2 separate regions of the Homo sapiens genome follow, and region 2 is linked to region 1. The links come from fine-mapping of genetic effects on gene expression. Tissue or cell type: esophagus mucosa. Region 1 holds a variant in brackets; the other region holds the start of a gene. All regions are shown on one strand. Distances are between the middles of the regions.

Evidence for each region. PIP is the estimated chance that this variant, and not a neighbour inherited with it, causes the effect.
Region 2: it holds the start of LINC01559, and the variant in region 1 is fine-mapped to the expression of LINC01559 in esophagus mucosa (GTEx, PIP above 0.99).

What each region holds. Positions count from the first base shown.
Region 1 is chr12:13,335,237-13,343,418 of GRCh38, forward strand. No RefSeq gene overlaps it. Among named protein-coding and RNA genes, the nearest start is that of LINC01559, 37 kb to the right of the region's middle. RefSeq lists an enhancer at 4,053-5,252. The variant C/A (reference allele first, on the strand shown) is at 4,534.
Region 2 is chr12:13,372,346-13,380,527 of GRCh38, forward strand. LINC01559 (long intergenic non-protein coding RNA 1559) reads right to left here and starts at 4,400. Exons shown (of 3, transcript NR_036555.1): 1 at 4,169-4,400; 2 at 3,879-4,080; 3 at 1-1,093. RefSeq lists an enhancer at 3,003-4,202.

The sequences.
Region 1 (8,182 bases):
GGAATGGAAATGGAAAGACACATGCTTCACTATCTGTGGTACCTTCTCATGCCTCACTGAAAGAACTTACTGTCTCCCATGTCAAAGATATAGTGTACAAAGGTAGCAGCAGAGGGGTTCACTTATTCACTCAACATGTGTTCATTTAGAAAAGTAGGAATTGGTTATCTGTTCTGATTTGAGTATCATGCCAGGTCATCACCTGGGCTCACAGTCTAGTGAGATAGAAAAATAAACAATGTGAAAAGGGCCGTGATAAAGGGAAGCACAGGCTGCAGGAAATGCTGAATTTCTGGGCATCTCTCTCAGGAGATGCCATAAGCTGGGAGATTTTTTAATTGACTTGCAGCAACTTTGTGAGGAAGCCCACAAGTGGTGAGCAGAGAAGAAGGTAGATGGAAAGACCTTTTGTGACTCATGGCTGCTATCATGATGCTGTCCGGACAGCTCCAAGAGGCCCCCCATTCCGTGTGTATAGGTGTTCCTCAAATAACAGGGTGGTTCTGACATGCAAAAGGTTCTTCTTTGATCACCGAAGGCTGGAAAACCTCATTCTCTGGAGTCAGTGTGTATCAGTCAAAATAGGCTAGGTTATGCTGTGGTAACAAACAACTCCCCAGATATCAGTGGGTTAACACAGCAGAAGTTTATCTCATGTGGGCTGGTCAGAGTTACGCTCATTATAGTCACTCAGGGACTGAGGCTGATAGATGCTTCACCTCTACACATTCTTCCAAAATTCCCAAAGAGAGAAAAATGGGATATGGTAACACATGTTGTTTCTTTTTTTTTTTTTTTTTTTGAGATGGAGTCTGGCTCTGTCACCCAGGCTGGAGTGCAGTGGCACCATCTCAGCTTACTGCAAGCTCTGCCTCCCGGGTTCACGCCATTCTCCTGCCTCAGCCTCCTGAGTAGCTGGGAATAAAGGCGCTCACCACCACGACCAGCTAATTTTTTCTGTATTTTTAGTAGAGATGGGGTTTCGCCATGTTAGCCAGGATGGTCTCGATCTCCTGACCTTGTGATCTGCTCGCCTTGGCCTCCCAGAGTGCTGGGATTACAGGCATGAGCCACTGTGCCTGGCCCCGCATGCTGTTTCTTAAAGACTTCCACCTGTAAGTCATTTACTACACTCCCACTCACATTTCATTGCCTAAAGCAAGTCCCATGGTCATGTCTAACTTTCAAGAGAGCAGGGAAGTATAATTCTACCATGTGTTGGGAAAGAGAGAAGAATTGGAATTTCTGTGAATATCCCTAAAACTAGCAGTGTTGTAAGAGTCTCCAGTTAAGTCCTCATCTTTTGGGGTTTCACACTGGTCTGTGAGCTCCTGGAGGACAAGATATACTGTTTGCATCTCTCTATTCCAAGGGCCTTGCACAATGCCTGGCATGGAATAGACTCTCAGTAGATGCCTGTTGGGTAAGTTAATAAGTGAAAGGACAAAGACTTTTTCCTAAAAGAAGAATCCCCCCACACCTGTGACCGTAAAAGTCTATACACCTTTCATATTTTTAAACTTGGCTTCAGGATCTGAGCTCCATACCTATGGTGCTCTTCTAAAATAGTTAGAAAGACACCTTGCCAGCACTTTGGGAGGCCGAGGTGGGCGGATCACGAGATCAGGAGATTGAGAACATCCTGGCTAACACGGTAAAACCCCGTCTCTACTAAAAATACAAAAAATTAGCAGGGCATGGTGGCAGGGGCCTGTAGTCTCAGCTACTTGGGAGGCTGAGGCAGGAGAATGGCGTGAACCTGGGAGGCGGAGCTGGCAGTGAGCTGAGATCACGCCACTGCACTCCAGCCTGGGCGACAGAGCGAGACTCCGTCTCCAAAAAAAGAGAGAGACACCCTGATGACTTACCCAGTCCTGCTAGGAGACACAAGCTCAAGTAACTGTATTTTGAGCCTCACTGATGAATTTTGGGAATACAACCAGTCCAGCCCCTTGTGTTCAAGTCTAAGGGAGAGGCAGGGAAAAGGTGGGCAAGCAACACAACCCTTCCAAGTGATGAGCAGAGCACAGCCCCAGAAGAGCACCAAGGCTCCCAGATTATACTCCAAACATTGAGGAAAGTCAGTGGTGAAATCTGAATACAGGACCCTGGCTCTGTGTGACTAGACACCCTTAGAAACGCTCCTGGAATGAGATACTCTGATTTCCAAAGTAGCAATGCCAATGCCAAGTTTCTGGGCCTGGAGTAAAGGCCACAAAATCAAATAATATAGCTGCAAATTTAGAAGACAGCTAAGTCACTGGATGACTGCTAGATCATATCTACAGTGGCCACAAAAGTCACAAGAACAAGATGGGTAACAAACGGGCTATAATTTGGTATACTACTCATTCATCATTGTCCTTCATGTTCCAGCATCTGGCAGTGATTTCTATCTTTGTTGTGCTGCTGTAGACAAAAAGATTAGTGCATGACCATGGGTATGTACGCAATAAGACTGACAAAAACCTGTGTCTTGGGAGAAAGAACAGCATCACTCTGCTGTGTGCAGAGTGTAAACCTGAAGTGAGGCACAGGAGCCAAGCTGTCTCCCTTTGGTTATGTTTGTGGTGGGGTTGGCATACATGGGACAAATAACGCATGGCCTTTTCTCTGAGAGGAGAAATCTGGGGCTACCCTAGACTGAAAGATCGGGCAATTTATGGTCATCTTTTGCTGCTACCAGGGGCTGCAGGCTTCACCGGTGTAAGTAGCTTGTCTGTCTGCACACAGGTCTGCTGTGCACCTCTCAGGGGTTGGCTAATCATGGCATCTGAAGTGGCAATCTGAAGTGCATGGGAACTGTTTAGGGTGGTAAGAGGATCAAGGCGGTGCACAAAGAGATGTGTGTAGTGATTTTCTTCCAACCAGTTTTCCCAAGCTGGGTCCGAGGGCGCTGGGAGTCTGCAACCTGAGAATGGGGGCATGTGTCCCTGGGGCAGTATCCCCCATCTTTCATCCAACAGGCTTGGCCGGGCTGCTTGGGCTAACTCCTGAGTGGCTTCCTTTTCGTATTCCTTATGGTCAGAGAGTAAAGATACTAAATGGACATTAGATCATTGGAGAACAGCAACCTGTGACTGAGGGGTCACCTACAAAATCCTACCTGTTGCAACAAAAGCAATGTTAACTTCCTAACTTGATGAGCTCTCAGGATCTTAGAAGAAAATGAGGGTTTCAATTTCTTCTGAAGAAGGATAATTTTGTTAAATTGATTTGCTTTGAATGAGCCCTTGGGGATAATAGAGACTCTCATCCCAAACTAATTTATGAATTTGATACAATAGCTCCTTCTTTACTTTTTCTGAAAAGAGTAAGATAGTAAATTTTTTAGGCTTTGTCAACCACATACGGCCTCCGTGTGCATTCCTCCTCCTTCTTTTCTTCTTCTTTCTCCTTCTCTTCCTCTTATTTCCTTCTCTAGCACCTTATCTTCTTCTGATCTATTGAAAATGTGAAAACCATTCTTAGCTCAAGGATCATCCAGAACAGGCCTTGGGGCCTGGCGCGGTGGCTCACGCCTGTAATCCCAGCACTTTGGGAGGCCGAGACGGATGGATCACGAGGTCAGGAGATCGAGACCATCCTGGCGAACACAGTGAAAACCCGTCTCTACTAAAAATACAAAAAATTACCCGGGCATGGTGGCGGGTGCCTGTAGTCCCAGCTACTCGGGTGGCTGAGGTAGGAGAATGGCGTGAACCCAGGAGGCGGAGCTTGCAGTGAGCCGAGATCGTGCCACTGCACTCTAGCCTGGGCAACAGAGCAAGACTCTGTCCCAAAAAAAAAAAAAAAAAAGAACAGGCCTTGGGCTAGATTTGGTCTTATAAGCCTTAGTTTGCTGGCCCATGCTTTACAGCGAAATAAAAAAAAAATTCTCTAAGCACCATGGCACTTACCAAAGGTTAAGCTAAGTGGGACCATGGCAGTTAAGTTTGTGGCTCTTAACACATTTATATAGGTCAAGCGAGTTTGAGAGGAGCTGACAACTCAAAAGTTCTTCTCATTCCGTCTAACAGGAAGAACATGAAATCCTACCAGAGATACTTGTTTCTGCAGGTTGAGGCTTACACATCCAGGGGTTCCTAGTTAAAAGATCAATAGTCTGTGGAGATTACAGTTCAATTCTCTACATGGGTTTCCCACATGAAGAGGTGAGTTAAAACAGAGTGAATTGCAAGACTCGTAGGTTGAGATGCCTTCTAGACAAAGGTAAAAATCATGAGTGTCTGGTTTAGAGAGGAGGAGCTAGGAAAATAGGTCAATTACAACTTTCATGTTCCCATGTTCCTGCCACCACCAGGGTCAACCTTGGAATTCAGTGTGTGGTAAACACACCAAGATAGATGTGCAGGCCTCTGGGACTCTTGTGGGTGGAGCCCTGCTTCCCCAGCCCACAGAGGCTGCCAGCCTATCAGAGGAGCCCATAATGAGTAAGGGGCATGCATGACAAGAGAAAGGGTGGAGCCAGCACTGGGATTGGGGAGCTGGGTATGGTAGTTCTTTGGCAGGCATGATTTGTGTGTGACATGC[C/A]CGGGACTTGATAGTTCCCATAACCCCTGACAGAGAGTATGACTAATAGGATAGGTAGACAACTCAAAGGAAGGGTGTGTTAGTTTCCCAGGGAGAGAATGTGGAGTTCATCATCTGTGGACTCTAGCAATGCCTCTAGCCAGAGTCAGAGGACAAGGTATGGACTGGGAGTGTGGCCTCACCCTCTGGCGACTAACATCACAGTGCTTTTTTAAATATTTGAAAACTTAGGTCCCCCCTACCCACCTTGGGAATAGGAACGGAAAAGGGGAAGGAGGAAGAAATACTGACTGTCAGATGATCTTTACCCTAAAGGGATGAAATTTAACTAAAAGAGACTTTTAAACCAAAGGATGCTGAATTACTGTCAGTCGATAAATTTAAATTCCCCCACCCTCTCCCCACACCTCCATCACCAGGAATAGAGTCTTAAAAGTGGAAAATAAAGTTCTCTCCATATATGTCCACCCCCATCTGAATCATACTTTGATCTCCCTCTATGTATTAAACAAACATTTATTTCCAACATGTGCCAGACACTGCCTTCCCTGGGGATACCCTGGAGAACAAGCCTGGCGTGATCTCAGCCCTCCTGGAGCCAGAAGTCTCCCTCTGGGCCTGGCTGTCATTGGAAAGGCAGTGGTCATCCCATTCACCCTGTACATGGGCCTTAAAGGAACCTACACTCTCTCTTCCACCATCACACAGCTCAAGCTGTCAGAGGCAGGCTCTTCATTTTCTCCTTCCAATCTTAGCACAACTTAGCTCCAGTCAGTAATAAACGCAGATGGCATCACATAGGTAGTTTCAGCCATGGCCTGTTGGTCACTGCATGGTTGCTTGATCTTCTCTCATCCCTTTAGAATTCAGAATGCTGGTAGGAAGACAGCTTCCTCCTGTCACTCTGACTGTCCTCCTTCCCAAAAAGTCACTTGTGTAGTACCGCCCACTCAAGCCAGATTTTTGAGTGCTATTATAACCACTTTAGATTGTACCAATGGGCTGTCAGATCCTTGATTCCAGCTTCTAAGTCTCTCCCATATGCATATTTTCCTGGCCATTCCCACAGACACTGCCCACAATAGTCTCCTATTTGTTCCTCTGTCTCAGCACTGCCCCAACTGAAATCTGTCGGCCATGCTGGTAGCAGAATGCTTTTGTAGAAAATGCAATTCTAATAATGTTCCTCTTTTTTTTTTTTTAAAAGCATTTAATGGTCCTCTATTGCCTCTATTGTCTTCTCTTCATTAGACAACCCCAACGGGAACTTCATCCTAGATGTGGAGTTCTTGCTGCTCCCCATTTGGATGAAGCTGCTTGAGTCTTCAGAGCTTGAGCTTGGCTTACCCCGCTGTGCTGTGAGATTCCTATTCATTCTTCAAGTCTCCTTTTCCGTCACTTTGCTGAAGTCCTCAGAGGGACCCACATCCTCTTCCCCATCATCACACAGCTTGAGCTCTTAGAGGCAGGCTTTTCATTTTCTAGGAATCCCCTTTTCAAGCTTCACATAGCAATTTATGTTGCTAGAGCACTTACCATACTGGAGGGTCATTGTTTTTTAGTGTATCTCTCCCCTTGGACATCCATTCCTTCATTTGTTCTTTCAATTAATATTTGTTGAGGATGTACTATGTGCTAGGCATTGAGAAAACACAGTCCTAGTCTTTAAGGAGCTAATATTTTAGCAAAAATGGCACGTAATAAATTTATAAGGCACCATAGACTGAACATTTTGGGTCAGGGGTGATCTGCTATGGTCCAAATGTTTGTGCTTCCCCAAAGTTCATATGCTGAAACCTAATTCCCAATGTAATGTCATTAAGAGGGGGGGTCTTTGGGGGGTGATTAGGTCATGACGGTGAATACCAGATGAATGGGATTGGTGCCCTTATAAAGGAGGCCTGAGGGAGCTTTCTTACCCTTTCCATTTTGTGAGGGCACAGCAAGAAAGCACCATCTATGAAGCAGAGTGGGCTCCCATCAAATCTGTTGGCATCTTGATCTTGGACTTCCCAGCCTCCAGAACTGCAAGAAGTACATTTCTGTTGTTTATAAATTACCCATTCTAAGGTATTTTGTTATAGCAACCCAAATGGACTAAAGCAGGATCTTATTCATCTTTATGTCCCTGGTACTTAGCACATGCTTGGCACACATGTGTTCTCAATAATGCTTGTGAATGAATGAATGTATGTATGAAGCAGAATGTTATGGTATTGGCTGCACAAGAATGTAGAGAAATGCCTTTGATATTATTTGGTTTTGGTTCATCTAAAATTGTCTCCTTTTCTCAAAATGCTCTTCCATCTTCACTAGTAGAATTCTCACTTATATTCCCTTGCAGACTTTTTATCAAGTTCACCTTCTTTCCCCTTCCCTTGTGTCTCATTTTCTCGTCATTGTCCTTTCCCCTCATGACATTTGCTTCCTGGGAGATTTCTTATTTTTCTCCAGTCGAAAGCAAACTGTCAGCCTTTCTGGGGGAAAGAGTGGTGTCTCCTGTTGCTCTTTCCCTCTTATTTTGTAAGGATCAGATAGTCCTCATTATCACACACAATAGTATACTCACAACCAAGGTGGGGCAGAGCCACACTACTCTCATGTAACAGAATCTCATGAATTTCTGTTTCTCCAAAAGGCTCAGAGAAGACAAACATGATATTCACACACAGAGACTCACATGTCCCCCCAGATGGGAAATCTCATGGGTACATGTGCATGACAGCACATAGCCATGTGGAGTGGCCCACAGAGCCACAGTGCCACCCCCAGACCCTGGGACACACAGAAGCAGAATTCTGTCCGAGCCTCCTTTCTCCAGTCTCAGACTTCTCTGCAGCCTCCAGGGGCTTGCTAGTCTCCCTTCTCAACTTCAGACCTTCTTTGAACCCTCTCTTCGGTTTTCTCTCCCGATTCTTGGGTCAATAATCCTTCTTCATCGGCAAGGTCCATACTGAGATAAAATCCATATCTGCTGATCCTTTTAACTGAGCTCTGTCACCCACCATTTCTTAAAAGTTGACTATGCACATCCCTACTCTGACACTGTGCCTTCCTATACACCTGTGAGGCCCCTTATCACTGTGGTCACCCACCCTACACTGTGGAGATCCTATACTGAGAGCAGGACACAGTTTTATAGCCCCATCTCGGCTGTAAAAATGGACACATGACTTTTCTCAAGACATAGAGCTATGAATAGTTACTCCAGAAGTTTTCAGATAGGAGTAGAGAAAGATGGCTAATCCTTTAAAAAATGATCTATTGGTAAACTTCATGTAAATATAATGTCCCCACAGGCATCTTGACTCAGTCAGAATGGGCTAGGTTATGTTGTGGTGGCAAACCCTCCCCAAATCTCAGTGGCTTACAGTAGCAAAGGTTTCTTTCTTACTCATTCTACTTGCTCACCACAGATTGACGATGATATGCTCCAAACCATCTCCACTCTAGGGCCCAAGCCAACAGAGAAGCCTCTGGGTGGAACACTGAAAACCTCAGAGTAAAGAAAAGAGAGATCTTGGCAAAGCATAAGCCAGCTGTTGAAACTTCCCCCATGTTCGCTCACGTTTCATTAGCCAAAACAAAGGCACATGACCAAACCTGGTGGACATCCTGGGTGAGAAACAGCAAATAATTTGGTTGTAAT
Region 2 (8,182 bases), 37 kb after region 1:
GGTTACATGGGATATTTTGATACAGGAATGCTATGTGTAATAATCACATCAGGGAAAATGGGGTGCCCATCACCTCAAGGATTTATCATTTGTTTAAGCCAGCATCTACTTTACAATTCCTCATCTCCCAAGGCTACATAATTACAGTGAGAACTTTAAGAAATCCACGTTTACGTGTGTTCTTTTGGCTTAAATCCCCTTCCTCAGCAAAAAGGCAAAGAGGGCACAGCTGTTTGCCTTCAGCACTCTCCTCTCTATATCCAACCACATTTAGGGCAGCTTTCCATGGCTTTTAAAATTCCTTTCTCTTTTCGGTCTGCTCCTTTATATCCTCATTGCCGTATAGAAATAAATATGAGGCAGAGTCCTATGCTTTTACAATTCCAAGGAAACCTACAGAGCGAGGCTGTGGAAACTGATTTTCCACTTTACCGGGGCATTATCCAACATGTTGGGTGCAAACGGGCACCTTTTAGCCTTTTCTTAAATTTGCATGACCTGTAATGTCTATACAGATTATGAATGAGCCTGAGGAGTCTGCATGTCTAACTTGTCATCAGCCTGGAAAAATCAAAATGTGTAGGTAAAGTGAGCACAAGATTTGGAAAAGCAAGGTGTTTGGATGTAAGAGAATAAACTCTTAGCCCTTTTGAGCATGAGTTCCTCAGCTGCAGAACAGGATTGAGAATCCTCACCTGAATTGGCCACTCTGAAAGTGAAAGCTAGCTAGATAAAAGTGCTTTGAAAAGGTAAAGAAAGGTGATGATTTAAAGCTGGTTAATGCTGAATTATGGAGGAGCTCTTTGGAAATTCTTTTTTATCTATATAAATGACAGAAATTTAGTGTGATCCATGTGGCTAGCACCTGTCACATGTCGTCTGCTGGCATTGATGCCTCACATCTTCCTCAATTTTCTGCTTCTTTTTCTCAATTAAAGCCGTCTGTCCACTCTTCAGCCTCTGAATCCTCCAAGCAATTCTTTCCTCTAGTCTTAGTGGATTTCCCAGGGGAGGAGCTCGTGCAATCCAGCAGAATGTGTCTACGAGCGCTCTGACTCTTCCAGGGAACGATTCCTCATTCCCAAATCTGTTGCTAGAGATAAGCAAGAGATTATACATTCCTGAGACCTGGGCATTACTTGAGTATCTAGGGGAAAATCAAGAATACTAAGGGGAAAAGGAGAGAAGGACAAGAGCAGCACATTTTATTTGCATCAGGCAAAATTGGGAAGTTGCAGAGAAAATGTTGCCCTTTGACTGCATGGAGGAAGACGGAACATCAATATGAAAATGGCGCTAAAGAGGCATGGGCTTTTCATGGTGTTTTCTTACTTCAGCTGCTATTGTTCAAAGAAGGTCAGTGGATCTCAGACATTTGAAGGTGGCACCTCTCCCATGAGAGTAAGAGCCCAGCTGACATAGGCCACTGGCTACATGGACCACTACTGGGGGCTCTTAACATCACAGCACCTGTTTCCTCATCTGGAAAACAAGGGGCTGTAACTACATCTGTGGCTTCCAACTCTCCCCTACTGGGAAGAGAGAGCTTCGTCAAACCTCAACCCTCTCCCCCTAGCTCCTGTATCTTTTCTCTAGTTATTTTGTCTCTGTCATCTTAGTCTCCTCGGTGCTCTCTGCTACCTGACTGCAGCAGGATGACTTGTCCCACCCATCTGTCCCATGGAGCCAGTCCTGAGCCTAGATTGAGTGGGTCCTCACCTCCATTGTGTGATATAGGCTGTATGTGTGTGTGCATGTGTGTGTTGGGGGAGGCTGAAATGACTTCTTTCCCTAAATGTCTCTCCCATGCCAAAAGTTTTTCCATTGATTATTTATTTTTATCTCTTTATAAGACAATTTTTTAAAATATCAGAAACAGCAGGAGCAATCATATGGGTCTAATCAGTCATTGACGCTTTCGAGTCTATAAATCTTTCCTTGTAGCAGGTTCTGAGGAAGGTAGGGGGAGATTGAAGGAAAACAACCCCTTCATATTTTAGTCCAAAGCTGTTGTTCATAGGTTATTCATCTGGTGGCCCAGGTGCTGACACAGTGACGTGCTTTCATGCCAGTTCCACAGCCAAATTGCAACCATGTGGAAGCTGGAAGCGTCTTGTCATCTCAGAATTGGGCACATCCAGTGGGGTAAAATCTGAAGCCAGAGGGGCAGAACTAAGCTCACAGCATCTGTTTACTGAGTTTGGGATTAGAAGAATTTTGATTTAAATGTGCACTATCAGTAGTTGCTTGATGAAAACAATACCCAGCATTTTGTGTTTTTACTGTCCCTAAGGCAACTCTGGTCCAATGAAAGTGAGAGTCTAAAAATCCCAGGATTATAGGTAATAGGACCTACCCTTCCATATCTGTGCAGTTTATATGAGTAGAACATGATTTTAATTTTCTATTGCCCTCATCCTTGCTCTTATATCCAAATACCCAGTAGCATGATCAGGAGCAAGGGAACTAATTTTCAAATATTAGCAAAGTTATTCAAGGGAATGGACTTTCTGTGGCTGCAGTTGGCACGTCTTTTTCAGAAAGCTTGCCCGTGGCTGACAGCCTGCTTGGCACAGTTCCTCCGGAGTCCTTTGGTGATGGAGAACAGGGCTGACAGGATTCAAATGGCCAGATTCCACAGAGGCCAAGGAGGGCCACAGTCTGCAAACCAGGGGAGATTGAGGCCTGAGAAGGGCATCAGCTGATGGAAATATTCACTCTAGGAAAACGAGGTGTAGCCAAAGAGAGTCATTTAGGAGAAGCAGATTGAAAGCAGCTGTGAAAAATCCTGAAATGAGGATATGGAATAGTGCTGGCCACCTCCGCATATGCCCACATGGAAACACACTTAATCAGCAGAGCTGGGCCTATGTGGAGATGCTGAGCCGGAGGCTCCTAGGTGTTAAGCACTTTTCTATGTGTAATGTGGTGGAAACCACCCTAGACTTTTCAGCGCACCCAAAGCAATAGAATTTTAACTGGGAGGGAATTATCCAGCCAGGGACTAGTTTCTGGCTTCTTTTGGAACTCAGTGTGGTTGTATGGCTAAGCTCTCACCAACAGAATGTGAGTGGAAGTGATGTGAGCCACTCTCAGACCTGACCATGAAACTTGGCTCATAGGCTCCTCCATACCACCCCACCTCCGCCCCACCTTCCTGCTTGGCTGGAATACAAACCTTGCAGTAACCTTGTGAGCAACGTGCTGAAAATAATAGAACTAGCATCTCCTGGGTTCCTTGAAGGATGCTTGGAGTAGAAGGCCCACCACCTGGCCTGTTCTAGACTATTTACATGAAAGAGAAAAAACCTTTTACTCTTCTCAAGGCATTGCATTTTGGGTCTTCCAATTGGCACAGTTTAGACCATGTTAACTAGTATATACAATAACTGGGCAAAGTAGGTGATGTCATCATTTTATAGGCTAAGAACCTGCAGCTCTGGGAATTTAAGAGATTTATTTATTTACCCAATATCAGGATACGAATGTGGAGTCATTATTTGAACTGAAGTCTGTCAGTTTAAACATTTATCTCCCAGAAGTTCAGACCTCCAGAGCAAACAGGTAGCAACAGATGACTTGAATGAGAGAGGGATCTCTGATTTGGCTACCATGTCCACTAACTCAAGCCCAAACTCATACCACCTCTTTCCACAGCTCCAGCTGCTGCACTGCTGAACTTGATCTTCATGCTGGAAGAATATGACAGCTGGAATGGGTCCTAATAATCACCCAGCTCAGTGGTTTTCAAATTTCATTTGGCAGAAGAAACACTTCTAATGAAATCTAAAACTCAGAAGCCCTGTGTGTAAAACAGTCCAAAGCAGACCTTGTCTCTTTGAAGTGTGGGCCTGGAACCTGGCCTGTTTCCCACTCACCTCCACAGCCTCTGAGTCCCTCCAAGCAGGTCAGAGAACAACTGATCTGGGTCAGCCCTTCGTTTCAGAGGTAAGTAAATAGTGGAGCATGAAGTGTCTTCATCAGGAACACACAGAAGGTAAAAGGCAGGGTGGGAACAGGAACCCAGCCTTCTGGCTTTTGAATTTAGGAATCTTTCCATTGTACTGGTGTATTAGAGTTCTGTAGAGAAACAGAACCAATAGGAGATTAGATAGATATAATACAATGAATATACCATAATTATACAAATAATAAAGGATTGGCTCACATGAATTTGGAGGCTGAGAAGTTCCATGATATGCCATCTGCAAGCTGGAGGCCCAGGAAAGCTGGTGCCTCCAGTCCAAACCCAAAGGCTTGAGAATCAGGAGTTCTGATGTCCAAGATCAGGAGAAAGATGAATATCCCAGCTCAAGCAGCCAACAAATTTGCCCTTCCTCTTCCTTTTAGTTCTATTCAAGTCTGCAATGGATTGAATGAGGCCCACCCACATTGGTGAGGATGATCTCTTTACTAAGCACATTGATTCAAATGCTAATCTCTTTTGGAAACACCCTCACAGCCACACCTAGAAATAATGTTTTACCAGGTACCTGGGCTTCCCTTAGCCCAGTCAAGTTGACACAAAAGATTAACCATCACAACTGGATTTCCTCTTTTGAGATACCAGCCCTTGAACCAGCTGCAGATTCAAGATGCCCAGCAAAGGCAGAATGGCAGAAGGGTCAGAGTTACTTGTTATATTAACATTTTGATTTCTGTGTAACAAATAACTGTTAAGCACGTGTTTAATTGAGAAGACAACCCAAGCAGGCTAAGTGTGAGCAACAAGGCTTGTTTATTCACTTGGGTGTGAGCCGGCTGAGTCCGAAAAGAGAGTCAGCATTGAGGAATGAGGAAGAGGGGGTTTTATAGGCTGGGGTAGCAAGTGGAAAGTTACAGAAGGTTACAGCTGGGGGTTGGTCGTTATAGATTTGGAGGGATGGTTAACCGGCTGGAACAGGAACTTGCTGTTTTTCTTCTTTGCGGTCATTCTTTTGTTGCTTTGGGCCTCTTTGTTCCAGGGAGCTATCTGGAGGTATACGTGCTAGTCACAGAGTTCACTTCTGGAGGTGTACATGTTGGTCACAGAGTTCATAATGGCCTGGCGATAGTGCAGCCACACTTAGGGAGCCTAACAATTACCACAAACATCATGGCTAAAACAACACCTACTTATTATGATCTCAGATGTCTGTAGTCTGGGTGGGCTCATGCTGGGTTCTTTGCTCAGTGTCTCACAGGGCTGAAATCAAGGTGTTGGCTGAGCTAGGTTATAGTCTGGAGGCTCCGGGAAGAATCCACTTCCAAGCTTATTCAAGTTGTTAGCAGAGTTCAGTTCAGTTCCTTGTGGTTGAAGGACTGCAATTCCTGATTTTTGCTGGTTATTGACTCTTGGTCACTCCTGGCTTCTGGACACTGCTCTCTTGAGGTCATTCCCTATAACTCCCTCCATGCTACCAATAGAGAACCTCTTTCTCATCAAATCCCTCTCATATTTTATTTATCTCTCACTTCCCCTTCTGCCACTAGCTAAAGAAAGCTCTATAGCTTGTTAGGTTACACCCATCTGGACAATCTCCCTATTGCAAAGTCAACTGATTAGTAACCTTAATTACACCTGCAAATCCCTTTTGACATGCAGTATAGCATAATCATAGGAATGACATCATAGGGTTAACGGCATGGGGGCCTGCTTAGAAATCTGCCTACCACATTTGCATAGTTACAACTAACTCTAGAACACACCACCTTCTCTTGAGGCCTCTGAGAACAATGGTAACATGGTTCTCTCCTATGACCTCCTAACAGCTTTTGCCAAATTCTTTCTGCTAGCTTCTGGGTAGGATAAAACAGCCTGATTATGCATTATTTCTAATTTAACATGGTTTGTGAGGCAAAGCAGGTATTAGACTCTGTAGGGTGTGTTCCCAGCCTTAGCCCTCCCTACAGCCTATTTCTGTCCACACATAGGAAGGCAGGAGGCAGGCCTGAAATCCTGGGGCTATCAGAAAAGGTGGGGCGGCAGCGGGGAGTTCTCTGTTCCTCTGGTGGCACTCACAAAACGACGATCAGAATAATCTTCTCCCTTTGTAGATGACTCCAGAGGGGAGACAGGATTTAACCAAAGCTAACTAGCAGAACTAGTTGGAGCTCTTAGTTTGGTGTTCTTTCTGCTACTCACAGTCAATACTAGAGTCAGCTGGTTTCTCTGTTGATTCTTTGCCCTGGCTTCTAGGTGATCTCAGAAAAGCCTTCCACAGTGTCTTCAGTTTGTTTCCTGACCCTGGCCCAGCAGGTAGGATTGCTGGCTATGTTATCTAGGCCTAGGAAGCATAAGAAATTGCCTAGTTAAGGCATCATGCTGACAGAGTCTGACAGAGTACCCCAGAGAAGCTGCCTCCCACTAGCTATAGAAGACAACAGAGGTAAGAAGACAGGCAGGGCTTGAAAAGATGTTGGAGAGCAGCAAGTGGTATGGTTAAGTTCCCTGGTTTCTGTTTTTTTGGTGTGTGTGTGTGTGTGTGTGTGTGTGTGTGTGTGTGTGTGTGTGTGAAAATGGGTTTGGCTTTGCAATGTGGATCCCAAGGTCAGATCAAGGTCTGTATGTGAGACTGGAGGCTCCAAGGCTTGTGGGAGGTTTCTGGGGGCAGGACCTGAAAAGGCAGGTAGATAAGAGAGAGGATATTTTATGCTTTATGGAATATTTGCATATACGTTATCTGATTATTTTTTCAGAAGTGAGAATTAAAACAATAAAGGATAAAAGAAATAACGTGACACATAGAGCAGCCTGGTGGTCTTGAGGTTGATGCAGAACCAATTTTTTGAGTAAATCCCACCTCCCTGCATTTCCTCTGACCAACTAAGGGGCTGGTTAAGAATCTTTGCAATTACTTCTATTCCAGTGAGTCCTGGAAAATATATGCTGGCCTCTAGTGAGGGATACCTGCTACCAGTGATATCCCAGTTTTGCTGATGAGGAATTTGTTTCTAATAAGTCAGATCTCTCTGGAGATAGAGACATAAACCACAAGAAGGGGGCCACATGTAGAACTTTCCCCAGGGTCTCTTGAATTGTGTAAGGTCAGCATTGGCAACACCCTCACCCGACTAAATAACTCTGCAAGGTCCATATCTCAAACTTTCTCTTCTCCAAAAAGAATATCTTGGAGGGAAAACGTGCTGGAGAGATGGAAATGGGCCAGGACTCTAGGGCAGATGCTGGAGGAGGTGGCTGCACTGGCAATCTCTCTGAATCAGATGCTCTGAATATTCCTTTGAGTTTGGGTTGCTGGGTAGAGTAGAGGTAAAAGCAGAATTTACAGGTACAGGTTTGGGAGAGGGTAAATCACCAGAGGATGTCCAGACCTAGGGAGGCTCTTTTTGCAGCAGAGAAAGTCTCCAGATTTTTGGCTGGAGGCCATCCCAGGCCCACTGTTTTCTCTGTGAAGTCCAATATCTGGCCATTGGGCTGGCCTTCTGGAGAGGCCTTCTGGCTTAATCCAGACCTAGGGCACCCCAGTCAGAGACAGTGGGAGGCCTCTGGTGTTGTCAGGGATCTTCACTGCCAGCTTCAGTCTTCTCTCCCAGCTCTTCTGTTCCCTTCGAATGGATGCAGTTTATAATGGGCCTATTAGAGCCCTAATTGAATGGTTAACACACCAGCCATTAGCAGCTGCTAATGAGGGAATCCAGGGGATTACGGTATCAATTACCAAGTTTGACTTCTGAATGTGGCTCTGCCAACAGTGGGTTCTTATGAGAGTCTTTAGAAAGCGTGACAGAGAGGGGGAAGAGAGCCATGCACACACAGTGTGACTGTGCCCTGCCTGTACCCAAGATAAGCTCTTACAGCTGTCCACACTCATGTGACTGCACAAAACAGGTTCTGGGGCAGTTTATCCACCCATGATGGAGATAGCATTCATCCCAAACACCTGCACACCTCTCTCCCAGGTCTTTTTACCCTCCATACAACACATGTGCTTCTTTGCCCCACAGCCATTTTCTCCTTCTCTGCTCCACTGCCTTCTATAATCCATGCTAGCTTGTCTTTGGCCTTCTTTCACACTTTCAATCGAGATCATTCTCAAGTTTCCCACTGCCCACATCCTATCAGTCACTGAGCCCTTGGAATCCCATCTTTTAAACATCTCTTAATTTCATCTCTTCCTTTCCCTTTCCTTCCTTCCCTTCCCTTATTTTCTCTTCCCTTCCATTCCCTTTCCTTTCTCCATTT